2 linked regions of the Homo sapiens genome follow. The protein of the gene in region 2 interacts with the protein of the main gene of each other region in a pairwise test. Each region holds a gene or a part of one and is shown on either strand. Other genes may lie near its edges.

Region 1 (3,500 bases), on a different chromosome or scaffold from region 2:
AAGCAACATTAAACGTCACTTTAAAAATAGACACAGACATTGTAGGTAGCTGAAGAAAACTTCTAAAATGTAGAAAAAGTACTGAGTTAATATGCTTGGAGAAAGAAGAGAAGATGCTGCGTTCATGAAATGAGAACAGGATACTGTAAAAACCATTCAGAAGACCACACCTCTCGCCAATAAAAGCTCCTGAGAATTAAAAATATAATGGTAGAATGTAAACATTTAATAGCATTGTTGGAAGATTTATTAGAACTAAAAAAACATGGGATATTTTTTAAAATAAAAAAGATAAAATTACAAGACAGATCCAAGAGATCCCATTTTCAGATTCAGTCTAAGTAATTTAAGTTTCAGAAAGAAAGAACGAGGAAATTATATAACAGAAGAAAACCACTCAGAACTGAAGAATGTACTTTTTGGATTGAAAAGGCCTAGAAAATACTTAGGACAGTGACGGATACCTCCCTGTATTCCCCCCACCCCGCCAAAAAACCCACCCCAACATTAAATAACAACATCATGAAATATCAGAATATGAACAATAAAGAAAACCCTACAAATGCCCAGAGATTAGAACAAAATACAAGGGATCAGGAATTAGAATGGCATCAGCCTCTCAACAGCACCGTAAGAAAGTAGAATAAAATAGAGCAATGTTTTCAAAATTCGTACGGGAAATGATTTCTGATTAATATCCCATACCCAGCCAAACCAGCAAGCAAGTGTGAAGGAAGAAAAGTGACATCTCAAATGGGCACAAGCTCAAAAAGCAACCGCATCTTATGGGGCCTGAATCTTATACACTTTTGGGAGCCTTCTTTAAGAAAAAGGCGTAAAATTACAAAAACTGTACATAATTGGGTATGAAAGTACATATGTATTCCACAAGAGATGGCCTAGACAGAAAAAAAAAGTGTGTGTGTATTTAGAATGAGAAAATAAATCACAACAGACAGGGACCGTGGAGGTTCTAGACTCTGTCTTTTCAGATGTGCTTGGAAAATTTACCCCAAATGCTTCTTGATGGCGGCCTGGCGTTTCCTCCCCACTCAACAGCTCCATGCAATTAGCAGCACTCAGAGGGCCCCCATGAGTTTCCTTGGCTCCAGGAAATGACTTCTTGGTGATGAGTTCTCAAACAACTAAAGAAAATGTAGCAACTCCTACACCCCATTCCAGGGGGTTGGGGGAAAGACTGGTCAAGAAGGGAAATGTAAAGATCATGGTGTATCATGTGCCTTAGTTGGGAATAATATATACACCAAACATTGACATATCAAAAATTTAGGATATAACCGTACTGGGAACTTAAAAGAAAGGGATGTGAAGGTGAGAGGGAGGGTGGGGGTGTAAAGGAGCGAAACCCTCATCCTTCTTGGTAGGATGTCAATAGATGTCATCCAGAACTGGAAAAGAGAAGAAGAAATGGCCCGTATCTGCATGCTATTTAGAATATGGTAATATCAGAAAAACACAACCCAAAGCATTGAAAGTAATTGCCGCTAGGGTTCTATACTCAGTATAAACTCAATGAAAACCTTCTACAATGAACGACTTCTAAGACTATACATTGATTTATGTTGACCAAAGCAGATAATTAAAAAATAAAGTATACCCTCAAGAGGAGTGAGGCAAAAAGCTAACAGAAATAAAATAAAGTCGCTTTTGCTAAACTACCTGACATTCGGTGTTTCTCAAAATGTATTCCCGCAACCACCTGCCCTCAGATGACCTGGCGTGCCCGTCCATAATGGAGAATTATAGACCCAGCCCAGACCTACATAATCAGCAGTTCTCAGAGTGGTCCTTGCACTCTACCATTTAAAAAAGTTCCCCTGGACCCACTGCATTACCCATTGCTTTTTAGTAAAACAAACAAAAAACCAAAACAAATAACAACCTATTTAGAGACAGGATCTATGACTCATAAAACACACTATGGCAGATGCTGCTAGCTGCCTACCCAATGTTCATTCTCCCCCCGCCTTATTAACAAAATTCCTATTTTGTTGTTATTATTATTTTTTTGAGATGGAGTTTCGCTCTTGTTGTCCAGGCTGGAGTGCAAGTGGCATGATCTCGGCTCACTGCAACCTCTGCCTCCTGGGTTCAAGCGATTCTCCTGCCTCAGCCTCCTGAGTAGCTGGGACTATAGGCGCCTGCTAGCACGCCCGGCTGATTTTTTGTGTTTTTAGTAGAGATGGGGTTTCACCATGTTGGCCAGGCTGGTCTTGAACTCCTGACCTCAGGTGATCCACCCGCCTTGACCTCCCAAAATGCTGGAATTACAGGCGTGAGCCACTGTGTCTGGCCCAAAATTCTTATTTTGATGTATTGGCAACGTGTCTGTCTCAAACACTAGATTCTCTCTGGTTCCGTCACCGTTAACAGTGTGTATGTGATATGGTTCTGGCCAATGACATGTAAGAAGTCTTTTGGGGTGGGCTACCAGAAAAGCTGTTATTATTATTATTTATTATAAAGAAGGACAGGCCAGGCGTGGTGGCTCACATCTGTAATCCCAGCACTTTGGGAGGCCGAGGGGGGCAGATCACAGGGTCAGGAGTTCAAGACCAGCCTGACCAACATGGTGAAACCCCGTCTCTACTAAAAATACAAAAATTAGCTGGGCGTGGTGGTGCACGTCTGTAATCCCAGCTACTTGGAGGCTGAGGCAGGAGAATCACTTGAACCCAGGAAGCGGAGGTTGCAGTGAGCCGAGATTGTGCCACTGAGAGAGACTCTGAGTCAAAAGAAAGAAAGAGATGAGACAGAGAGAGAGAGAGAGAAAAGAAAAGAAGAGAGAAAAGAAAAGAAAAGAAAAGACAAGACAAGACTCTTCTGGAGCATGCCTCTGCCCGTCTTTCTGCTGCAACTTGCGGAAGTGAGTATGAAAGCTCCATGCTAAGGAGGGTGGTGCGGGAAGACACAAGGAGCCTGTCTCAGATGACGTTCATATCGGAACCCCTTTCCCAGCCCCAGCCTTCTCACCTCCAGACTTCTCGTTCTCTGAGAAAAACAAACTCCTTACTTGTTTAAGCCGCTGTAGTAGGGTTTTCTGTTCTTGTAGCTGAATGAACGTCTAATGACATCTCACACTTTTTCAGATGTTTATCTGACATACCACATTTTATGTATGCCTGCTATGGGCACTGTGCTAGGAATAAGACAAGTAAAGCTCTCTTTGTCATGGAACCAGGAGCACAGTTAGAACAGAAGTTAGAACTTTAGCCACTATAATAACGGCTACAGTTATAATAACAGTTAGAACAGAAGGTCCATAGGCATTTGAGGCTGGGATTCAAGGAGGTTATGTTTGCTGTCACAGACCTCAAACCAAAAGAGTACATCAAAATAAGTCACTGGATTTATACATTTGGCAAATTCTCAAGGGACCACATGACAGAAGGAGCAAAAATCTGAACATTGTTTTTAGCTGTAATTCTCCAATGAAGTAGATTTGGGGAAGCAACATGAGGTACTTGCTTTATTTTTCT
Region 2 (3,500 bases):
AGCTGGGACTACAGGCACACACCACCACGCCCAGCTAATTTTTGTATTTTTAGTAGAGATGGGGTTTCACCATGTTAGCCAGGCTGGTCTCGAACTCCTGACCTCAGGTGATCCACCTGCCTTGGCCTCCCAACGTGCTGGGATTACAGGCGTGAGCCACCGCACCCGGCCTGGACCTGGGATTTTTGTAAAATTTGTAAAAGAAAGATTTTTTTTTCTGTTGCTTTTCCAAAAGAGGGCCCCCAAATCATGTAAGCTTCAGGGCCTCACCAACCTGGACCCACCCTGGAACCCAAGCCCTCTGAGCCCCTGGGTCAGCCTGCACAGAAGCAGGGCCTCCAAGACCTGGCTTGTCTCTTTTTTATTTTTTTAGAGACAGGATCTTGCTGTGTTGCCCAGGCTGGTCTCAGACTCCTGGACTCAAGTGATCCTCCCACCTCAGCCTTGTGAGCAGCTGGGACGATGAGGCGAGGCGTGGGCCACTGCATCCGGCATGGCTTGTCTCTTGACTAAGGCTTTCTCACCTCTTGGTGTCATCGCCCCAGTGGCAGATCAGCTGCCACTCCTGGCACCCCCAGGCCACAGCTGTGACCTTCAGTAAGTGTCCCCTCCCCACCCTCTGTGCCTCAGTCTTCCCACCCGAACTGGGCTGGGCTGGGTCAGAAGTGCCTGATCTGTTGCGCGGTGACTGCCGCCTGTCAGTGACTCATTTCTTTGTTCTAAAGCCAGATGGGAAAAAAAGGAGTTACAGCAAGAAGCTAAACTGATTTAATAGAAAGGACCACCTTTTATTTGGAGTTTATATTCTTTTTTGCAGGGGGCTAAGATGGACTATAGGGAATGAATATCAGTGCTGGCAGATGAGTTTTTTGTTTGTTTGTTTTTTGTTTTTGAGATGGAGTCTCGCTCTGTCTCCAGGCTAGAGTGCAGTGGCGCGATCTTGGCTCACTGCAACCTCTGCCTCCTGGTTTCAAGTGATTCTCCTGCCTCAGCCTCCCAAATAGCTGGGATTACAGGCACCCACCACCATGCCCAGCTACTTTTTAAATTTTTAGTAGAGACGGGGTTTCACCATCTTGGCCAGGCTGGTCTCAAACTCCTGACCTAGTGATCCACCCGCCTCAGCCTCCCAAAGTGCTGGGATTACAGGTGTGAGCCACCGTGCCCAGTCAATGTTTCTTTAATTCTCTACTTTGACAAAATGAAAATGATAAAATGTTTGAAATGTTGCCATTTTCAGGGTTCATTTTTTAAGGGCTTTGGCCATAATACCACATGGTTCTGTAAGTGGGGTGGGTATCTTCCCCCCGTTTTACAAATGACAGAATTAAGGCTCAGCCTGGAGAAGTGACTTGTGCTAGCTCAAGGCCTGGGCTTGTCAGAGACTTGGTTTGAACCCGGACTGCTGGGCTCCACATTCTGTGTACTCCCTGTGGGTTCTCTGCCTGGATATCCATGGCACCAAGGGGTGGCCTGAGGGGGGCAGCTTCATACCCCTGGTTTTATTCACCCCCTCCACTCCACCCCCCATCATCCCAAGTGAACACTGAATAAAAAAGCTGAACTTGGCCAGGTGAGGTGGCTCACGCCTATAATCCCAGCACTTTGGGAGGCCAAGGCGGGTGGATCACTTGAGGTCAGGAGTTCGAGACCATCCTGGCCAACATGGTGAAACCCCATCTCTACTAAAATACAAAAATTAGCTGAGCGTGGTGGCGGTCGCCTGTTATCCCAGCTACTCAGGAGGCTGAGGCAGGAGAATCGCTTGAACCCGGGAGGCGGAGGTTGCAGTTAGCTGAGATCACACCACTGCACTCCAGCCTGGGCAACAAAAGCAAAACTCTGTCTCAAATAAAAAAAAAAAAAAGCTGAACGTTTTTTGTAAACACAGCAGTTTCAAGATAAGACCCCTTGCCTCCCCCAACCAACTTGCCATGTGCCAGCCATGGGGCCACAGGAAAATTCTGGGACCAGCGGTTGTTGGGGAAGAGGGTCCAGGGTAGAGACAGAACCTCTGGCCAGTTCTGATGTTCATTTGTTCATTCCACAAGTCCCCTGCTCAGTGCCAGCTGAGTGCTCAGTGCCACCCCAAGGCACTCTCGCTCCAATAACGAGAACAGGATTGAGTGGGAAGCACTGTCCCAGAGGCTCGGGTCACTACAAGAAGGAATTCCCAAGGGGTGGCCCAGGAGAGGCTTGGATGACAGACTCACAAGCTGGACTTCCTCTGAGGGCAGTGGGAAGCTGGAGAGAGGGTCAAGGGTATTTCGGAAGCTCCTGTGGAAGCTTGGTTTGGAGAGGGCTCTGTGGCTGGAAATGCGTGGTCACGTCCAGCCTGTCCTCTCCCAGTACCGGGCACAGCCCTGTCACCTAGACAGGAAGGTGGGCCCACGGCCCTTGTTTGTTATTTATTGCTGACCACCCTGGAGTCTTTCTCACCTCTTCACCTCCTGTGGCCGGCCGCTCCGCCGCTTCTTCTCTCTCAGGTCTAGGACAGGGTCAGCTGCAAGGAGACCGCTGGGAGGTGATAGATTTCTGCTGTGTTTTGGGCACTTCCTCATGTCCAGGGACAGCCCAGGGGCGGCCTCAAGAGCCTGAGAAAGCCTAGGGCATCAGGAGCAGGGCCATCAGAGCGGGACCTTGGAAAACCCCTACCTCTTTCAGCCTTGGTTGCCTCATCTGTAACATGGGATTGGAGGGCCTGGGTTTGGGGAGGCCTCGAGAGTTTATAAAAATGCAAATTTTGGCCAGGTGTGGAGGCTCATGCCTGTAAGCCCAACACTTTGGGAGGCAGAGGCAGGTGGATCACCTGAGGTCAGGAGTTCGAGACCAGCCTGGCCAACATAGCGAAACCCTATCTCTACTAAAATTACAAAAAATTAGCCAGGCGTGGTGGCACGCGTCTGTAGTCCCAGCTACTTGGGAGGCTGAGGCATGAGTATCGCTTAAGCCCGAGAGGTGGAGGTTGCAGTGAGCCGAGATTGCGCCATCGCACTCCAGCCTGGGCTAAAAGAGTGAAACTCCATTTCAAAAAAAGAAAAGAAAAAGAAAGAAAGGAAAAGAAAATGCAAGTTATTTTTGTTTGTTTGTTTTTGAGACAGGGTCTCGCTCTGTCACCCAAGTTGGAATGCAGTGGCACGATCTCAGCTCACTGCAGCCTCCACCTTCCAAATTCAAGCGATTCTCCTGCCTCAGACTCCTGAGTAGATGTCCGCCACCACACCCGGCTAATTTTTATATTTTTAGTAGAGACAGGGTTTCATCATGTTGGCCAGGCTGGTCTCAAACTCCTGACCTCAAGTGATCCGCCTGCCCCGGCCTCCCAAAGTGCTGGGATTACAGGTGTGAGCCATCTTGCCTGGCCTGAATGCAAGTTTAAAAGGCCTGCCGTAAGTCTGCTGTGGTGCGTTTTGTTATCCCCTCCTTAGATGAAAAGCTGAGGCCCAGAGAGGTTAACTGGAGTCACTGGGATCGGAACCCATGGCCCCTGCTCCAGGGAG

Evidence for each region. The genes of interacting proteins can lie anywhere in the genome.
Region 1: the proteins of SYNGR1 (region 2) and TMEM45B interact in binary tests that used the Homo sapiens proteins (3 or more experiments, as listed by UniProt).

The regions. Positions count from the first base shown.
Region 1 is NC_000011.10:129,818,848-129,822,347, reverse strand, and holds part of TMEM45B (transmembrane protein 45B), read right to left. Parts: intron 1-3,500.
Region 2 is NC_000022.11:39,352,991-39,356,490, forward strand, and holds part of SYNGR1 (synaptogyrin-1), read left to right. Parts: intron 1-3,500. UniProt on the Homo sapiens protein: May play a role in regulated exocytosis. Modulates the localization of synaptophysin/SYP into synaptic-like microvesicles and may therefore play a role in synaptic-like microvesicle formation and/or maturation.